Homo sapiens: one gene and its partners. The protein of the gene in region 1 purifies or fractionates together with the protein of each later gene. This does not show direct contact. Each region holds a gene or a part of one and is shown in the gene's direction. Other genes may lie near its edges.

Region 1 (7,039 bases):
AGGCCGAGGCGGGTGGATTGCCTGAGCTCAGGAGTTTGAGACCAGCCTGGGCAACATGGTGAAACCCCATCTGTACTTAAAAAAAAATATGAAAAATTAGCTGGGCGTGGCAGCATGCGCCCATTGCCCCAGCTACTCGGGAGGCTGAGGGAGGAGAATTGCTTGAACTCGGGAGGCGGAGGTTGCAGTGAGCCAAGATTGTGCCACTGCACTCCAGCCTGGGCGACAGCGAGACTCTGACTCAAGAAAAAAAGAAAAGAAACAAAACAAAACAGTATGTATTAGAGGCAAGGTAGGTAAACATTTCCTGAGAACTTGGTGCATTCTTTTTGTTTGAAATTGACCGTAAGTATTTGGCACAGTATGGCTCTAGAGAAAGGTTTCTCAGCTTTGGAACTTTGAGACTTTGGGCCAGATAATTATCGTGGGGGCTCTGTTGTATATTGTAGGATATTTAGCAACATTCCTACCTCTACCCATTAGATACCCATAACACATCCTCTGCAGGTTGTAACGATCAGGAATGTCTGAAGAAATTGTCAGAATTGCCCTTGATTGAGACTACTACTTTAGTGAAAATATTTCACATGTATTTATTTATTTATTTATTTTTTGAGACAGAGTTTCGCTCTTGTTGCCCCGGCTGGAGTGCAATGATGTGATCTTGGCTCACCGCAACCTCCGCCTCGTGGGTTCAAGCAATTCTCTTGCCTCAGCCTCCCGAGTAGCTGGATTACAGGTGCGTGCCACCACACCCAGCTAATTTTGTATTTTTAGTAGAGACAGGCTTTCACCATGTTGGCCAGGCTGATCTGGAACTCGTGACCTCAAGCAATCCACCCGCTTTGGCCTCCCAAAGTGCTGGGATTACAGGCGTGAGCCACCATGCCCAGCCATAATTACCACATTGAGGAATTTGTACTTAATTCAGTGTAATGGGAAATACTTGCAGTTTTTTTTAGTAAGGAAAGAAAAATTCTTAAAAATATAGTGGTAGCTGGCCGGGTGTGGTGGCTCACACCTGTAATCCAGCACTTTGGGAGGCTGAAGCGGGTGGATCACAAGGTTAGGAGTTTGAGACCATCCTGGCTAATATGGTGAAACCCTGAATCTACTAAAAATAGAAAAATTAGTTGGGCACAGTGACACGCACCTGTAGTCCCAGCTACTGGGAGGCTGAGGCAGAGAATCGCTTGAACCCAGGAGGCAGAGGTTGCAGTGAGCGCAGATTGCACCACTGTGCTTCATCCTGGGTGACAGAGCAAGACTCCATATCATAAAAAGAAGACCTCTAAATGTACCAGTCTTTGCATTCTGACATATATTATGTTGTTTTGTTTGAAGTATGTGAAGAAAATCTAGCCTCATACAGATACATAGTTGGAAAAGAGAGGAGTATTTTAATGGCCTTTTCAGATAATTCTAACTGCTCTTTGACACTACAGTCAAACCTTTTTATTTGTTTGTTTTTTTGAGACGGAGTCGTGCTCTGTCGCCCAAGTCGGAGTGCAGTGGCGCTATCTCAGCGTACTCCAACCTCCGCCTCCCAGGTTCAAGCAATTCTCCTGCCTCAGCCTCCTGAGTTGCTGGGACTACAGGTGCACATCACCACGCTGGGCTAATTTTTTGTATTTTTAGTAGAGACGGGGTTTCGCCATGTTGGGTTTGAACTCCTGGCCTCAAGTGATCCGCCTGCCTTGGCCTCCCAAAGTGCTGGGATTTCAGACGTGAGCCACCGTGCCCGGCCTCAAACCTTTTTAAAGGTTCATTACAGTATGGAATCTGAAACTGTGTCATTGAACTTTTGTATTCTGTTGTATTAAAAACCATTGGTCTGTGTTGTACTTTGAATAGACCTTTACACTTCTGTGATTTTATAACATGATGCATGTTGATTTTGAAATTATTGATTTACTGAGTTATGCAGATCTTCTTTTTTTGTTGTTTTTTTGTTTGTTTGTTTCTTTGTTTTTGAGACAGAGTCTTGCTTTGTCACCCAGGCTGGAGTGTTGTGGCACAATCTTGGCTCACTGTAACCTCTGCATTCCGGGTTCAGGTGATTCTCATGCCTCAGCCTCCTGAGTAGCTGGGACTACAGGTGTGTACCACCACATCTGGCTAATTTTTGTATTTTTTGTAGAGACGGGGTTTCAACATGTTGACCATGGCTGGTCTGGAACTCCTGACATCAAGTGATCTTCCCGTCTCGGCCTCCTAAAGAGCTGGCATTACAGGCATGAGCCCCATAGGCCTGGCCCAGATATTCCAGATGTTGACAAATTTAATTATACAGTTGTTTCTGTTTCCACCCATCTCATCAGATAAGTCTTTTTAAGAATTGAGAAGCTTATGACCTGATAGTGGTGAATACATGTTTTTTTTTTTTTTTTTTTTTTTTTTTTTTTGAGATGGAGTTTCACTCTGTCACCTGGGCTGGAGTGCAGTGGCACGATCTCGGCTTATTGCAAGCTCCACTTCCCGGGTTCACGCCATTCTCCTGCCTCATCCTCCCGAGTAGCTGGGAATACAGGGGCGTGCCACCATGCCCGGCTAATTTTTTGTATTTTTAGTAGAGATGGGGTTTCACCGTGTTAGCCAGGAAGGTCTCGATCTCCTGACCTCGTGATCCGCTCACCTCCGCCTCCCAAAGTCCTGGGATTACAGGCATGAGCCGCTGCGCCCAGCCGAATGCATGTTTTTGTAGTTGTAATTTTTGTATCAAAATTTTTTTTTTTTTTTTTTTAGATGTAGTCTCACTCTGTCGCCTAGGCTGGAGTGCAGTGTCGTGATCTCGGCTCACTGTAACCTCGCCTCCTGGGTTCAAGCAATTCTCCTGCCTCAGCCTCCTGAGTAGCTGGGATTACAGGCAGGTGCCACCACACATGGCTAATTTTTGTATTTTTAGCAGAGACAGGGTTTCATCATGTTGGTCAGGCTGGTCTTCAACTCCTGACCTCGTGATCTGTCTGCCTCGGTCTCCCGAAATGCTGGGATTATAGGCATGAGCCACCATGCCCAGCCTTTCTTTTTTTTTTTTTTTTTTTTTTTTTGAGACGAGGTCTCGGTCTTTCCCCCAGGCTGGAGTACAATGGTGGGATCTCAACTCACTGCAACCTCCGCCTTCTGGGTTCCACTGATTCTCCTGTCTCCGCCTCCCAAGTAGCTGGGATTACAGGCGTCCACCACCATGCCTGGCTAATTTTTTGTATTTTTAGTAGAGATGAGGTTTCACCATGTTGGCCAGGCTGGTTTTGAACTGCTGACTTCAAGTGATCCACCTGCCTCGGCCTCCCAAACTGCTAGGATTACAGGTGTGAGCCACCATGCCCAGCCAGTACCAAATCTTAATAACCATAGTTTGTCAATCATTCTTTGAAATTAAAATGGTGGGCGGGGCGCAGTGGCTCACGCCTGTAATCCCAGCACTTTGGGAGGCTGAGGGGGGCGGATCACAAGGTCAGGAGATCGAGACCATCCTGGCTAACACGGTGAAAACCCGTCTCTACTAAAAATACAAAAAATTAGCTGGGCGTGGTGGCGGGCGCCTGTAATCCCAGTTACTCGGAAGGCTGACGCAGGAGAATGTCGTGAACCTGGGAGGCAGAGCTTGCAGTCAGCCGAGATTGCGTCACTTCACTCCAGCCTGGGCAACAGAGCCAGACTCTGTCTCAAAAAAAAAAAAAAATTAAAATGGTGTTCCATGAGAAAAACAACTACATTTAGCTTTCAAAAGTAATTACAGGTGGTTTGCCCCTTGATATCCTTTGTATTTCAGTAAGCAGAAGTTTTTGAGTATTTCCCAATACTGAATTAAAAAGAATTGTGCTGTAGTGTTGAGAAATAATACAACTAATAATTTTTGCTGCTTCATTAAGGACCCTTTTAAGTGAAAGTGGAATTTTTTATATTGTAAATGGGTGACAGTGAAGAATTCAGTGAGTGTTAGTTCAGCACCATTTGGGGTTGTTGCTTTGATTCATGCTGAGTTCCCAGCATTTTTGCACACCATTGATTTTGCACATCAGCACAGAGGTCAGAACAGTAAAGAAAAAGGGCAAAGTGTCTTAGTTTTATTGTGAAAATGGTTTTGATTTCATTGAACCCCTGGAAGAAGTGTTGGGGACTTTTAGGGGTCTTTGGGTCACACTTTGAGAACCACTAATCTAGAACAATATTTCACATTGGTTCATAGAGCCCTAAGCTGCTTCATAGGGCAGAGCTGGTGGGGTTCTACTGTACCTACTCCCTCTTCACTTCAGCCAGAGCAGCTTCTGCTTATGTCTGTTTTATATGTCGGGTTTCATGGCTAAAAAATATTTGAAAATCATTAGTCAAGGGGAAAAGAATTGAGCACCTGAATTAGGGCTGGTCTGTTCGTGAAGGGAACAGTTCATCCTCAGTAAATGTTACAGTCACTCATCACTTCACATCTTTAATTTTACTTCGTTTGACACAGAGCTTACTAGTATTTGCACACTCAACCTTCTTGATAGGTAAATGGGGCTGTGTGCCGTGGCTCACGCCTGTAATGCTAGCACTTTGGGAGGCTGAGGTGGGCGGATCACGAGGTCGGAAGATCGAGACCATCCTGGCCAACTTGGTGAAACCCCATGTCTACTAAAATACAAAAAATTAACCCGGTATAGTGGTGGGTGCCTGTAGTCCCATCTTCTCGAGAGGCTGAGGCAGGGAAATCGCTTGAACCCAGGAGGCAGAGGTTGCAGTGAGCTGAGATCATGCCACTGCACTGCACTCCAGCCTGGCAACAGAGCAAGACTGTCTCAAAAAAATAAATAAATAAAAAATAAGTAAATGGGCCTGGCACAGGGGCTCACCTATAATCCCTGCACTTTAGGAGGCCAAAGCAGGAAGATGGCTTGAGTCCAGGAGTTAGAGACCAGCCTGGGCAACATAGTGGCACATGCCTGTGGTCTCAGCTTTTTGGGAGGCTAAAGTGGGAGGATCAGTTGAACCCAGGAGGTCCAGGCTGCAGTGAGCCATGATCATGCCACTGCATTCCAGCCTGGGCAACAGAGTGAGACCTTGTCTCAAAACAAAAACCAAAAAAAAAAAAAAAAAAAAGAAATAGGTAAATGAATTTGTAAATTAAAAAGATGGATAGTTGGGAATAAAGACAGAGATGTGAGATAGATGGAAGAGGTTGAATGATCATAGTAATCTCAATATATTGTGTTTGTGCAGGGATGGGATTTGTTTTTGTTTGCAGTGGTGCTTTATGCTTGTGCTGAGTGATCAGTGGATGACACTTAAGCATTGAGAAATAAGAAATTATGGCATTCTAGCTAGCCATTGAACCAAAGTTTAGAGTGAGGGGACATTTATTATGCTTTTTAAATTATAAATACCTGTAAAATACCTGTTGAAAAATAAACAAAATGCTGCTTTTGAGGAGCTCTAGTTTGAGGCAGCTTTGTCCTCCTACCAGTCTTTTGGTGTAGGCTGTACAATCCCTATTGTTCAGATGTAGAAATTGAGGTCTGAGAGATTGAATATTATGACTTACAGTAGCAAGTGGCAGAGGAATTTTTTATTTTTTTAACTTTTTATTTTGAATTAACTTTAGATTTTAAGAGTCAATGATGGTAACTGACAGGTTTTTTTTTGGTTGTTTTTTTGAGATGGAGTTTCACTGTTGTTATCCAGGCTGGAGTGCAGTGGCACGATCTCGGCTCACTGCAATCTCTGCCTCCTGGGTTCAAGCGATTCTCCTGCCTCAGCCTCCCGAATAGCTGGGATGACAGGCATGCGTCACGACAACTGGCTAATTATGTATTTTTTAGTAGAGACGGGGTTTCTCCTTGCTTCTCAGGCTGGTCTTGAACTCCCGACCTCAGGTGATCCGCCCACTTTGGGCCTCCCAAAATGGTGCGATTACATGCGTGAGCCACCGTGCCCAGCCTTATACAGTGATTCTTAATAGTTAGGTATATATCCTTTCACTTTTAGAAATTTATTTATTTATTTATTTTTGGAGACAGAATTTCACTCTTGTCACCCAGGCTGTAGTGCAGTGGCGCAATCTGGGCTCACAGCAACCTCCACCTCCCAGGTTCAAGCAGTTCTCCTGCCTCAGCCTCCTGAGTAGCTGGGATTACAGGCATGTAGGCTAATTTTTGTATTAGTAGAGACAGGGGGTTTCACCATGTAGGCCAGGCTGGGCTCGAACTCCTGAGCTCAGGTGATCCACCAGCCTTGGCCTCCCAAAGTGTTGGGATTGCAGGTGTGAGCCACCGCGCCTAGCCGAGTGACAGTTTTAAATACAGATGTCTCACACCAAAGCTAATATACTCTTCACTCTAAAATGATTAGGGTTATGTTAAGGGGATGAAAAAAATGCTGCTCAGTGCTATTAGGAAGGAGCTTATGTAAGATGCTATGGACTATTTAAAATTAATTTACACCCAGTGAGCAAAGTCAAGACATTTTTTTTACCCAGAGCAGCAGACAGGTAAAACACTCAGGTGGCAGGTATAATAACAAATATATTGCATAACTAAAAGCAGCTGAGAGACACTAGTTTACGTAATCGGGGTTGGAAAGGAAGAGGGGAAGTAAAGTGTTTTATTTTTTTTGAGATGGACTCTGGCTCCGTCGCCAGGCTGGAGTGCAGTGGCCCGATCTCGGCTCACTGCAACCTCCGCCTCCTGGATTCAAGTGATTCTCCTGCCTCAGCCTCCCAAGTAGCTGGGACTAGAGGCACACACCACCATGCCCAGCTAATTTTTGTATTTTCAGTAGAGACGGGGTTTCACCATGTTGGCCAGGATGGTCTCGATCTCTTGACCTCGTGATCTGCCCGCCTCTGCTTCCCGGAGTGCTGGGATTACAGACATGAGCCACCGTGCCCGGCCTTTAAAGTGTTTTTATACTAATAAAGAGTTTAAGGGTGTGCGGCAGTCTTGTGAAAGCAGGTGAGGCTTGAGCAACAATTTTTAGGAAGAAAAGGAGATACGATTTTTAGAGAGGGTATGATGTTCTTTTTTTTTGTTTGAGACAGCGTCTTGCTCTGTTACCCAGG
Region 2 (7,039 bases), on another chromosome or scaffold:
CACTGGAGTGCAGTGGCGCAGTCTCGGCTCACCGCAGCCTCCACCTTCTGAGTTCAAGTGATTCTCCTGCCTCAGCCTCCCAAGTAGCTGGGATTACAGGCACGTGCCACCACGCCCGGCTAATTTTATATTTTTAGTAGAGACGGGGTTTCTCCATGTTGGTCAGGCTGATCTCACCTGACCTCAGGTGATCAGCCCTCTTCGGCCTCCCAAAGTGCTGGGATTACAGGTGTGAGCCACCGCGCCCAGCCAAAGGTAACCTTTTCTAATAGACATGCCTAGTTAATATAAGTCCCAGTTCATGTTAAGGGTTTTTTTGAGTCATTTAGAAAAAGCTATAGAGATTAATATTTTATTTATTTTATTTTATTTTATTTATTTATTTTTTTTTTTGAGACAGAGTCTCTCTCTGTCACCCAGGCTGGAGTGCAGTGGTGCGATCTCTGCTCACTGCAACCTGCATCTCTCTGGTTCAAGCAATTCTCACACCTCAGCCTTTCAAGTAGCTGGGATTACAGGCGCGTGCCACCACACCTAGCAAATTTTTGTATTTTTAGTAGAGACGGGATTTTGCCATATTGGCCAGGCTGGTCTCGAACCCCTGATCTCAGATGATCTGCCTGCCTTGGCCTCCCAAAGTGCTAGGATTACAGGCATGAGCGACAGCCGTGGGCCAGATATGTATATTTTAGATGTAGGTTAATTCCCATAAGAATACAAAGAGTTGCCTTTGAACATCCAACTGCTTGATCCCTAAAAGTCATTACTGTAGTTTGAGATAAATGTGGGGCATTATTAAACAATATTCCTTTTGTATCTAATTCAGTGTATATAGAACTTTGATGGCAGTAGTTTCTAGATTTCATTATTCTAAAGGAAAAAGGAGAGATTTATTCTTGTAGAAGGGTGTGAGTCAGAATTTAAAGATACTCTTGTTGGGAAGAAGTGCTAATTCCTTAGTACTTTGCTTTAATAGTATCCTCATTTCTGATGCCTAGACTCTGTCAGTCAACCAGCAGTGGACTACAGCTCACTACCACACAGGCCCTGGCAGTCCTTCCTATAGCAGTGCACCATGTACAGGTGTTGTGTGCAACAACCCAGAAATCGTTACAGTTGGAGAGGATGGTCGAATAAATCTCTTCAGAGCTGATCACAAGGAAGCTGTAAGAACCATAGGTAAGAAAAATCCCAGCCTGGCCAACATGGCGAAACCTAGTCTCTTCTAAAAATACAAAAGTTAGGCTGGGTGTGGTGGCTCACCCCGGCAATTGCAGCACTTTGGGAGGCCGAGGCAGGTGGATCACCTGAGGTCGGGAGTCCGAGACCAGCCTGACCAACATGGAGAAACACCGTCTCTACTAAAACTACAGAATTTGCTGGGCATGGTGGCACATGCCTGTAATCCCAGCTACTTGGGAGGCTGAGGCAGGAGAATCGCTTGAACCTGGGAGGCGGAGGTTGCAGTGAGCAGAGATCGCACCATTGCACTCCAGCCAGGGCAACAAAAGTGAAACTCTGTTTAAAAAAAAAAAAAGAAAAGTTAGCCAGGCGTGGTGGCGCATGCCTGTAATCCCAGCTACTCAGGAGGCTGAGGCAGGAGAATCGCTTGAACCTGAGAGGTGGAGGTTGTGGTGAGCTATGATGGCACTCTGCAGTCCCACCTGGGTGACAGAGGGAGACCCTGTTTCAAAAAAAGAAAAATCATTGTACTCCTTTCATCCATCAGAGTAATTGAGCACTTACCATATACTAAGTAAATACTGCCAGGCACGGTGGCTCATGCCTGTTACCCCAGCACTTTGGGAGGGTGATGCAGGCGGATCACAAGGTCAAGCGATCAAGATCATCCTGGCCAACGTGGTGAAAATCCGTCTCTACTGAAAATAACAAAAATAAGCTGGGTGAGGTGGTGTGCATCTGTAGTCCCAGCTACTCGGGAGGCTGAGGCAGGAGAATCACTTAAACCCGGGAGGCAGAGGTTGCAGTGAGCCAAGATTACACCACTGCACGCTAGCCTTGTGACAGAGAGAGACTTCATCTAAAAAAAAAAAGTAAACACAATGTTAAGTGATGGAGGGATGTAAAAATATATGGCCGGGTACAGTGGCTGACGCCTATAATCCCAGCACCTTAGGAGGCAAAGGCGAGCAGATCATTTGAGGCCAAGAGTTTGAGACCAGCCTGACCAATATTGCAAAACCCCATCTCTACTAAAAATACAAAAATTAGCTGGGCATGGTGGCACAGGCCTGTAATCCCAGCTGCTTGGGAGGCTGAGGCATGAGAATCGCTTGAACCTGAGAGACTGAGAGGCTGCAGTGAGCCGAGATCATGCCACCGCACTCCAGCCTGGGTGACAGAGCAAGACTCTGTCTCAAAAAAATATAAAATATATGTACACATGTGCACACACAACGCAAGGCAGGATCCCTTTGTCAAGACAGTATGTTGATGAGACCAGTATGAATGACTGACTAGAGGAAACAGAAACCTTTTTTTTTTTGGTGAGAGGGCATTATCAGATAAAACATCTGGAAGCAGGTAGTAATTAATAGTTTTTCTAGGTTCTAGACCATAAGTAATACTAAAAGATGGCGTGCTAGACAAAGGGAATAGGCCAGAGGCAGGATAAAGACATTCAGAGAATGACAAAAAGTATAGTTTGACCCGACTTTAGATATTTATTTAGGAGAGATGAAAGATGAAGCAAGAGAGAAGTAAGCTGGGGCCAGATTGCAAAGAGTCTGTAATGCAAAATCACAGAAGTTACATCTTTTAGGTGGAAAACTAAGTGTATTGGTTCTGAACTATGCTTCAGCCAGACTTCTCTGAGGAAATTTTTTAACTGTCGACCACTCTAGACCTTTTAAATCAGAATCTCTAGGAATTGAGCCCATGAATCCATTTTGTATGTGTGTGTTTTGTTTGTTTGTTTGTTTAGATGGAGTCACGCTCTGTCACCAGGCTGGAGTGCAATGGCACGACCTCAGCTCACTGCAACCTCCACCTCCTGGGTTCACGCGATTCTCCAGCCTCAGCCTCCCGAGGAGCTGGGACTACAGGCGCACGCCACCACACCCACCTAATTTTTGTATTTTTAGTAGAGACAGGCTTTCAACATGTTGGCCAGGATGGTCTTGATTTCTTGACTTTGTCATTCGCCTGCCTCGGCCTCCCAAAGTGCTGGGATTACAGGCGTGAGCCACTGTACCTGGCCTTTTGTGTTGTTTATTATGATTTTCATTTCTGAGTTAAGTTGCATTACTTTTTTTTTTTTTTTTTTTTTTTTTGAGACAGGGTCTTGCTCTGTCACCCAGGCTGGAGTGCAGTGGCATGATCCCAGCTCATTGCAACCTCTGCCTCCCAGGTTCAAGCGATCCTCCCACCTCAGCCTTCCAGGGATGTGGGACTACAGATGCACACCACCATGCCCAGCTAATTTTTGTAGAAACGAGGTTTCACCATGTTGCCCAGGCTGGTGTCAAACTCCTGGGCTCAAGTGGTCTGCCCACCTCGGCCTCCCGAAGTGCTGAGATTACAGACATGACCCACTGCACTGGGCGACATTACTTATTTGTTAATTAATGACCATTGCCTGGTGGCAGTGTAGAGGAGTGGCACAAACTAAAGTCCATAAAGTATATGTTAAATTATGAGGCATAAGTTCTAAACACTAGGAAATCAACAAAAAGGACCATTATGACAATAAGGAGTGACTTCATGGAGAGGGCGAGAGTTGATGAGGGTGAAAATGAGTAGATTTGGGATGAGTCTGCAGAATAATACAAGGTTAGAATGAGCTCTGTAGGAAGCACTGGAGTTTGGCTCAATAGAATGGAAGTTCTAGGTCAGGGACTAGTGGGAAGTAAGATTGGGTTTAGAGGAGCTTGAACAACTCTCTCAGAAATGCAGGGTAACAATCTTAAGAGTTAAAAAGAAATGTATGAAAACTCAGCCTTCCATTTAGAAAACAGTTCAAGGCTGGGCCTGGTGGGTCATGCCTGTAATTCTAGCACTTTGGGAGGCTGAGTGAGGCGGATCACCTGAGCTCAGGAGTTCGAGACCAGCCTGGCCAACATGGTGAAACTCCGTCTCTACTAAAAATACAAAAATTAGCCAGGCATGGTGGCATGTACCTGTAATCCCAGGTACTAGAGAGGCCGAGGCAAGAGAATCGCTTGAACCTGGGAGGCGGAGGTTGTAGTGAGCCCAGAGTACGCCACTGCCCTCTAGCCTGGGTGACAGAGCGAGATCCATCTCAAAAAACAAAAAGAAAAAGAAAACAGTAGGCCAGGCGTGGTGGCTCAAGCCTGTAATCCCAGCATTTTGGGAGGCCGAGGCTGGTGGATCACCTGAGGTCGGGAGTTCGAGACCAGCCTGACCAACATGGAGAAACCCAGTCTCTACTAAACATACAAAATTAGCTGGGTGTGGTGGCACATTTCTAATCCCAGCTATTTGGGAGGCTGAGGCAGGAGAATAGCTTGAATCCGAGAGGTGGAGATTGCGGTGAGCCGAGATCGCGCCATTGCAGTCCAGCCTGGGCAACGAGCAAAAAAAAAAAAAAGAAACAGAAAACAGTTCAGATGTCCTGTGAGTAAATGTTTTTCCCATCCAAAGAGAATCCATTTAAACATATACATTAACCATGCATTTTTCTATAGAAATTTAAATTATAAGTTACTGGAAATTGTAATATATCAATCCATGAAAGGAGTGTGATTTAAGATTTTCTTGGGAAAAAAAGGGGACTCATTAACACATACTACCATTTTTTAAATTTTTAGACAATGCAGATAGTAGTACACTCCATGCTGTAACCTTTCTTCGAACTCCTGAGATTCTTACTGTAAATTCAATTGGACAGTTGAAAATATGGGATTTCAGACAACAAGGAAATGAGCCTTCTCAGATATTGTCACTGTAAGTGTTGATTTGTAATTTCAGTAATGTAATCCACAAATTAATGTGTTAGGTTGTTTATAGCTACTGGCTTTAAGCCATATTGAATTTTAATTGCATTTTAAGAGGGAGATCCCTGATTAAAATTTGGTAGAGCAAGCATAACTTGACGGGGTTGGTACTACTATGCTTCATTTAGTAATTATTTGTTATAGTGATTCAGAGCCTTTACTCTTTGAAGTTTGTATTATTTCATGGAGAACTTATTTCTGCTCTTTCAATGATTGTTTAATGGATAAAATATACTCCAGATGTAATGATTGGGGGAAAAATATAATTCCAAATATTTTTTCTGAGCAGAAATCCCCCTTTGTAGGTGTACAACGTTCTCTCGTAAGAAAATAGAATGTGTCACACTGAAAAAATAGTTACATAAACTAAGCATTAAATAAGATGATAAATAATATTTAGTATATAATTGATGTATGAGTTTTTAAATAATTTAACAAGTGGAAATGTGATTTGTACATCTTACCATCGGATTGTCTTTCATTCCATGTCTCCAAATTGAAGTGAAAATGAATAATTGTGGCCTTGAATTATTTCAAAATTGTACTATTTAGAAATATATCTAATTTAGTTCATTTTTTTTGGTATCATTAAGATTCAGCCAGGCTGGGCGTGGTTGCTCATGCTTGTAATCCCAGCACTTTGGGAGGCCGAGGCAGGCAGATCACTTGAGGTCAGGAGTTCAATACCAGCCTGGCCAACACAGTGAAACCCCGTCTCTACTAAAAATACAAAAACTAGCCAGGCATGGTGGCACGTGCCTATAGACCCCGCTACTCAGGAGGCTGAGGCAGGAGAATCACTTGAACCTGGGAGCCAGAGTTTGCAGGAGAATCACTTGAACCTGGGAGGCAGAGTTTGCAGGAGAATCACTTGAACCTGGGAGGCAGAGTTTGCAGTGAGCTAAGATCGTGCCATTGCACTCCAGCCTGGGCAACAAGAACAAAACTCTGTCTCAAATAAAAAAAAGATTCAGCCAGTAGCTCCAGCCACTAAGTTGACACTTAGTTACCATATAAAACATGTTTCTTGGCTGAGCATGGTGACTCATGCCTGTAATCCCAACATTTTGGAAGGATTATCTGCGGTGAGAAGTTTGAGACCAGCTAGGGCAACACAGTGAGACCCCATCTCTACCAAAATTTCTTAAAATAGCCTGGCACGGTAGCATGTGCCTGTAGTCCTAGCTACTTGGGAGGCTGAGGCAAAAGGCTCTTTTGAGCCCAGCTTGCAGCAAGCTGTAGATAGGCCATTGCACTGTAGCCTGGGTGACAAGACAAGACCCTGTCTCTCTTTTTTTTTTTTTTCTTTGAGACAGAGTCTTACTCTGTCACCCAGGCTGGAGTGCAGTGGCATGATCTTGGCTCACTGCAACTTCTGCCTACTGGGTTCAGGCGATTCTCATGCCTCAGCCTCCCAAGTAGCTGGAACTACAGGCATGTGCCACCATGCCTGGCTAGTTTTTGTATTTTTAGTAGAGATGGGGTTTCGCCATTTTGGCCTGGTTGGTCTTGAACCTCAAGTCATCCACCTGCCTTGGCCTCCCAAAGTGCTGGGATTACAGGTGTGAGCCACTGAGCCTGGTCTCTTAAAAAATAAACAAAAAAAAACAGGCTGGGCACGGTTACCAGTCATCCCAGCACTTTGGAAGGCCAGGGTGGCTAGATCACTGGAGCCTGGGAGTTTGAGACCAACCTGGGCAACATGGAGAAACCCCATCTCTACAAAAATACAAAAAGTTAACCAGGCATGATGGTACACACATGTACTCCCAGCAACTCAGGAGGCTGAGGTGGGAGGATACCTGAGCCCAGGGAGTTTGAGCCTACAGTAAGCAATGATTGCAGCGCTGCATTCCAGCCTGGGTAAGTGAGGCCTTGTCTCAAAACAAACAAAAAACGTGTTTCCTGTGTTACACAAAGATAAATTATACTTTATTTGATTTTGACGTCATTGTTATCTCCCACAAAAGGACTGGTGACCGAGTGCCACTCCACTGTGTTGATAGACATCCCAACCAACAGCATGTTGTAGCTACTGGTGGCCAAGATGGAATGTTGAGTAT
Region 3 (7,039 bases), on another chromosome or scaffold:
TCTCAAGGAAAAAAATAAAAATAAAATAAATCCATACTCCAGCTGGGCATGGTGGTTCATGCCTGTAATTCCAACACTTTGGGAAGCTGAAATGGGAGGATCACTGGAGGCCAGGAGTTTGAGCCCAGCCTAGGCAACATAGGAAGACCTCGTCTCTATAAAAAGTAAAGTTAGCTGGGTGTGGTGGCGCCGGCCTTTAGTCCTAGGTATTCAGGGGGCTGAGACAGAAGAATCACTTGAGCCCGGGATTTTGAGGCTGCAGTGAGCTGTGATTGCACCACTGCACCCCATGCTGGGTGACAGTGAGACCCTGTCTCTAAGAAATCCCTACTCTATGAAGGCCTTCCATAAAGTAGACTTAACTTAGATTTTCAAATTTATCTTTCATCTGGGCCCTTTCCTACATGTTTTTCTCACAATATGCTTCCTTTTTTTTTTGTTTTGAGACAAAACCTTGGTTTGTTGCCCAGGCTGGAGTGCAGTGGTACGATCTTGGCTGACTGCAGCCTCCGTCTCCTGGGTTCAAGTGACTCTCCTGCCTCAGCCTCCCAAGTAGCTGGGATCACAGGGGATCACCACGATGTCTAGCTAATTTTTGCATTTTTAGTAGACACGGGGATTCACCGTGTTTCCCAGTCTGGTCTCGAACTCCTGACCTCAGGTGATCCACCCGCCTCGGCCTCCCAAAGTGCTGGGATTACAGGCGCGAGCCACTTCGCCCAGCCAAACATAAACCATTTATATTTGCAGCAACACTTAACCGTGGAAATATGTAGATTATAAAATTAGATATGAAAATCCTCGGCCGGGTGTGGTGGCTCACACCTGTAATCCCATTACTTTGGGAGGCCGAGGCAGGTGGATCACCTGAGGTCGGGAGTTTGAGACCAGCCTGACCAACATGGAGAAACTCCATCTCTACTAAAAATACAAAATTAGCTGGGCATCGTGGCGCATGCCTGTAATCCCAGCTACTCAGGAGGCTGTGGCAGGAGAATCGCTTGAACCCGGGAGGTGGAGGCGGTGGTGAGCCGAGATCACGCCATTGCACTCCAGCCTGGGCAAGAAGAGCAAAACTCTGTCTCCAAAAAAAAAAGTCGGGCATGGTAGCTCATGCCTGTAATTCCAGCACTTTGGGAGGCTGAGGCAGGTGGATCACCTGAGGTTGGCAGTTCGAGACCAGCCTGACCAACATGGAGAAACCCCGTCTCTACTAAAAATACAAAAAAAAAAAATTAGCCAGGCATGGTGGCGCATGCCTATAATCTCAGGTACTTGGGAGGCTGAGGCAGGAGAATCGCTTGAACCCAGGAGGCGGAGGTGGTGGTGAGCCAAGATCATGCCACTGCACTCCAGCCTGGGGATTGAGTGAAACTCCGTCTCAAAAAAAAAAAGAAAAGAAAATCCTCAGAACGTTGCCTATGACTTCATGTCTTTCTCCCTCAAAGTATATCTGAATGCAAGTGATTGAGACTAACGTAGAAATAATCTTCAGTCTGCTCTGATTCTTGATTTTTGAGACAAGGTCTTGTATGGCGACAGGCAAACACCACCATGCCTGGATATTTTTTTTTTTTTTTTTTTTTTGTTGGGAGGTCTCACTGTGTTGCTCAGGCTGGTCTCACCTGAGCTCAAGCCATCCTCCCTCCTGAGCCTCCCAAAGTGCTAGGCTTACAGGTGTGAGCCACCATGCCTGTCCTTCTCGTTCATTTTTTAAAATTGTTCAAAGCTGCCTTTTTTAGCGACAAAACACTTGGATACTCCATAACTTGAGACTCCAGTGAGTCCATGACAACAAGTTTGGAAACTGTTCTACATATAAAATAATGAATATTTAACAGGCAAAATTAAATGTAGGGCTAAATATTTAGTAGCTGGCTATAAGCCTAACGATGTTTACACTTGCCTTCACAAGTAAGTGTGGATTTTATTGTTTGTATTTAATCTTAATGATAATGTGCAAACTTTCACTTTTCTTCTAGGGCACTGTAAATTGGTCTGTTGATGACATTGTCAAAGGCATAAATAGCAGCAATGTGGAAAATCAGCTCCAAGCTACTCAAGCTGCCAGGTAAGTCTTGTCTGCGATAGCATGGGTAGCCTAAGAAATTTGTGTTTTTAGATTTTTTTTTGGGGGGTGGGGCAGGAAGGGACAGACAGATAGTACAAGGAAAGATTAGGCCAGCCAGCCATAAGCCAAATAGTATTTTTTATTTATTAATTTTTTTGAGAGGGGAGGCCTTGCTATTTTGCCCAGGCTGGCCTGGAATGCCTGGGTTCAAGCAGTCCTCTGACCTCAGCCTCCTGAAGTGCTGGGATCACAGGTGTGTGCCATTGCACCTGCCCATAAAGTTTTTACCAAAGTAATGTTTCAAGTCACTGGCAGGGGAAGGAAGAAATAAATAGTAAGTGGGATTGAGACATGCATTTAGAATGATAGATCCATTTAGGAGATAAGTATAATTTGACCTTTACCTCCCACTATACGTGGATATTTATGATATAATAGAAAGGATTAATAAGTTCTATAGCTTGACAGTGTGCAGAAGAAAAATTTCAATGGTAAATTATCATTAAAAAGTTCTAGGCTGGGTGCTGTGGCTCATTCCTGTAATCCCAGCACTTTGGGAGGCCAAGGGGTCGGTTACTTGAGCCCAGGAGTTTGAGACCAGCCTGGGCAACATGGTGAGAGCCAGTTTCTACAAAAGAAATTATTAGCTGGGTGTGGTGGCACATGCCTGTAATCTCACGTGTTTGGGAGGCTCAGGCACAATAATCACTTGAACCCAGCAGGCGGAGGTTGCAGTGAGCTGAGATCTTGCCACTGCATTCCAGCATGGCGACAGAGCAAGACTCTGTCTCAAAAAATAAATAAATAAAATAACTTGGGTGTGGCGGTGCACACTTGTCGTCCCAGCTACTAAGGAGGCTGAGGTGGGAGGATCACTTGAGCCCAGGAGGTCGAGGCTGCAGTGAGCTGTGATCGTGGCACTGCACTCTAGCCTGAGTGGAGTGAGATCCTATTTCAAAAAAACAAAATGTGCTTAACCACAACTATCAGAACAAATTCAGTGAGAGTATAACCCTGTCAGAATGTGAAAAGTTTTTTTAAAAAGTGACAAGATCTGGAGTAGATTTCTGCAGGGATGGAAAGGAGGGTAATCTACATTAATTTCTGGAAAAATGGTAGTTAATTATACCGCATACATAGCACCATACAAGTAATCTGTTCAGCTTCTCTTAGGTTCCAGAATGTCTCAGCATTTAGTGATTTACTTAAAAGGTTGTCTGAAGTTCTAAACTCTTGAATTGCATTTTATATTGGTTTTTACACAAACTCCTTTTGTTAATCACTGTCAACTTTTATTTCTCTTTTTGTTCCCCTTTAGGAAACTACTTTCCAGAGAAAAACAGCCCCCCATAGACAACATAATCCGGGCTGGTTTGATTCCGAAATTTGTGTCCTTCTTGGGCAGAACTGATTGTAGTCCCATTCAGTTTGAATCTGCTTGGGCACTCACTAACATTGCTTCTGGGACATCAGAACAAACCAAGGCTGTGGTAGATGGAGGTGCCATCCCAGCATTCATTTCTCTGTTGGCATCTCCCCATGCTCACATCAGTGAACAAGCTGTCTGGGCTCTAGGAAACATTGCAGGTACTTGGACTTGAAGTTCTTTTGACTGAATGTATCTAATCGTAATTAGTTGGAAGAAAGGCCTTGTTATAAGTAATAGTGACTTTGTCAAGTTTTGAGCTTGCTTTCAAGCCCTTATTAGGAATGAAAGTGTCGTCTTTACAAAGGCAGCAGAGGGCCATCTAAGTAAGTTTGGGAGTTTTTGCTGGTGCATTCAGTCACTGAAAATTGATGGTGTTGGACAAGGTAATAAAATTAATCTTGCCTCGGCCGGGCATGGTGGCTCACGCCTGTAATCCCAGCACTTTGGGAGGCAGAGGCGGGTGGATCATGAGGTCAGGAGATTGAGACCATCCTGGCTAACACAGTGAAACCCCACCTCTACTAAAAATACAAAAAATTAGCCGGGCGTGGCGGCGGGCGCCTGAGGCTGAGGCAGGAGAATGGCTTGAACCCAGGAGGCGGAGCTTGCAGTGAGCCGAGATCGCGCCACTGCACTCCAGCCTGGGCGACAGAGAGAAACTCCGTCTCAAAAAAAAAAAAAAAAAAATTAATCTTGCCTTTTTTTTCAGGTGATGGCTCAGTGTTCCGAGACTTGGTTATTAAGTACGGTGCAGTTGACCCACTGTTGGCTCTCCTTGCAGTTCCTGATATGTCATCTTTAGCAGTAAGTTACTAACATGAGTAAAGTTACTCACTTCTTCATTCTAATTTCCCCCATCTTCTCAAAAGACAGAACCTCTCATTGCCTATTTTTTTTCCCCCAGTGTGGCTACTTACGTAATCTTACCTGGACACTTTCTAATCTTTGCCGCAACAAGAATCCTGCACCCCCGATAGATGCTGTTGAGCAGATTCTTCCTACCTTAGTTCGGCTCCTGCATCATGATGATCCAGAAGTATTAGCAGATACCTGCTGGGCTATTTCCTACCTTACTGATGGTCCAAATGAACGAATTGGCATGGTGGTGAAAACAGGAGTTGTGCCCCAACTTGTGAAGCTTCTAGGAGCTTCTGAATTGCCAATTGTGGTAAGTTATTTACTTGTAGATTAGGACATAAGTATAAGAAGCATGATCAGGGCTGGGCGTGGTAGTGGTGGCTCACACCTGTGTAATCCCAGCACTTTGGGAGACCAAGGCAGGTGGATCACCTGAGGTCAGGAGTTCGAGACCAGCCTGGCCAACATTGTGAAAGCCCATCTCTACTAAAAATACAAAGAAATTATCTGGACATGGTGGCACGTGTCTGTAATCTCAACTACTCGGGAGGCTAAGGCAGGAGAATTGCTTGAATCTGGGAGGCAGAGGCTGCAGTGACCCGAAATCGTGCCATTATACTCCAGTCTCTCAAAAAAAAAAAAAAAAGCATAATCAGTTGATAGTAATATTGAAATATTGCCTATTTCAGGCCATGATGGGCCTCTTGTTAAAACTTTTAGGGTATAGAATTTCTAAAGTGCTGGGGAAAAAATAACCAGCATCAACATATTTTTTTTTTTTCAGACTCCTGCCCTAAGAGCCATAGGGAATATTGTCACTGGTACAGATGAACAGACTCAGGTTGTGATTGATGCAGGAGCACTCGCCGTCTTTCCCAGCCTGCTCACCAACCCCAAAACTAACATTCAGAAGGAAGCTACGTGGACAATGTCAAACATCACAGCCGGCCGCCAGGACCAGATACAGCAAGTTGTGAATCATGGATTAGTCCCATTCCTTGTCAGTGTTCTCTCTAAGGTAACGAAGTCTTAGGATTTAATCAAGTCATTTTTAGTATTTATAGAAAGCTGTGCTTGATAAGCTTCTTCACGTGCAAGAATCTTGGGTTCTACTAGGAGTCCTTTGCTGAACAATACCCAGTAACCCCTTTTACTTAAGGTTGGATAGAACCTTGGTACTTTCAGTCATTGTTTTTGTGAAAAAGTACTCTTGGAATCTTATTTGTGCAACTGTTCTGAAATAAAACCATTTCCTTATGTTTAATAGGCAGATTTTAAGACACAAAAGGAAGCTGTGTGGGCCGTGACCAACTATACCAGTGGTGGAACAGTTGAACAGATTGTGTACCTTGTTCACTGTGGCATAATAGAACCGTTGATGAACCTCTTAACTGCAAAAGATACCAAGATTATTCTGGTTATCCTGGATGCCATTTCAAATATCTTTCAGGTAAGTCCTATCAAGGTGGCTTTGTTTGAATTTGGACTTGATAATAATCAGTTTACTATTTAGACTTGGGGGAGGGCAGCTGTAAGTTTACTCACTAGTAAGCCACAGAATCAGAAAGCCTGTTTATGTGGCCACCCCTTTGATTAAAAATGAGGCAGGCATTATAAAAGATACAAAAGAGACGACAAGTGGATGGTGTGACCTGAATCGGAGTCAGGCGCTTATGTGGACTCATCACACCTGTTTACTTGGTTGATTTAATTTCCCAATTTCATACCGATTTTTGGTGACATTAAATTTGAATGACTTGGCCAGGCACGGTGGCTCATGCCTGTAATCACAGCACTTTGGAAGTCCGAGGTGGGTGGATCACCTGAGGTCAAGAGTTCGAGACCAGCCTGGCCAACATGGCGAAACCCTGTCTCTGCTAAAAATGCAAGAATTAGCCATGTGTGGTGGTGGGCGCCTATAATCCCAGCTACTCAGAAGGCTGAGGCAGGAGAATCGCTTGAACCCGGGAAGCGGAAGTTGCAGTGAGCCAAGTTTGTGTTATTGCACTCCAGCTTGGGCAAGAGTGAAACTGTCTTAAAAAAAAAAAAAAAAAAAGTTGAGCCTTCAATAATGGATGCTAGCGTATCTGTTACTGTGTATAAATAATTTGTCAGTATGTGGCCAGTATTTCTTCTTCCCCTCATCTAATCCCCTAAGTTATTTTGAAGCAAATCTGTTTTTTTCATCTATAGATATTTATGTATCTCTTTAAGGTTGAAAATTTAAAGGAAAACTAACCTACATACCATTCCATATGTCCAGTAAATCCTTAATACCAACACACATTCTGTTTGGGGACGTTTAGTTTAGCACTCCATAGGCCATCTTTGCCCTTAGACACCTTGACTACACCTTGTGATGACATAGGATGCTTTATGAAACAATACACCCCTGTTCCCATAGCAGACCAGTTGAACTGGAATGTAGTGTTGTTTTAAAAGTTGCCCGCATGATTTTGATACATAGAAAAGGTTGGGAGCTACTACTGATTGTAAGATCTTTGGCTCCAGTTGAAGTAGTGCTAAAAGCAGGTACAGATCCAATCACATTGAGTGTCAACAAAATATAAAATGGACATAAAACTATGATAGGCTTGATGAAGGAATTGTTAGGTGCTTATTTCTGCCTGACGTATCAATATTCAAATTATTGATGTTTTCTTCATTAAAATAAAACCAGA

What was found.
Region 2: the proteins of NUP98 (region 1) and NUP43 purify together in Homo sapiens (affinity purification with mass spectrometry; 6 studies listed by BioGRID and IntAct, with this or other methods). This does not show direct contact.
Region 3: the proteins of NUP98 (region 1) and KPNA2 purify together in Homo sapiens (affinity purification with western blotting, with the first as the bait; 2 studies listed by BioGRID). This does not show direct contact.

The regions. Positions count from the first base shown.
Region 1 is NC_000011.10:3,787,545-3,794,583, reverse strand, and holds part of NUP98 (nuclear pore complex protein Nup98-Nup96 isoform 1 precursor), read left to right. Parts: intron 1-7,039. UniProt on the Homo sapiens protein: Plays a role in the nuclear pore complex (NPC) assembly and/or maintenance. NUP98 and NUP96 are involved in the bidirectional transport across the NPC. May anchor NUP153 and TPR to the NPC.
Region 2 is NC_000006.12:149,736,530-149,743,568, reverse strand, and holds part of NUP43 (nucleoporin Nup43), read left to right. Parts: intron 1-998; coding exon 999-1,179; intron 1,180-4,790; coding exon 4,791-4,926; intron 4,927-6,946; coding exon 6,947-7,039. UniProt on the Homo sapiens protein: Component of the Nup107-160 subcomplex of the nuclear pore complex (NPC). The Nup107-160 subcomplex is required for the assembly of a functional NPC.
Region 3 is NC_000017.11:68,038,696-68,045,734, forward strand, and holds part of KPNA2 (importin subunit alpha-1), read left to right. Parts: intron 1-1,982; coding exon 1,983-2,071; intron 2,072-3,389; coding exon 3,390-3,658; intron 3,659-4,209; coding exon 4,210-4,304; intron 4,305-4,404; coding exon 4,405-4,668; intron 4,669-5,142; coding exon 5,143-5,376; intron 5,377-5,625; coding exon 5,626-5,808; intron 5,809-7,039.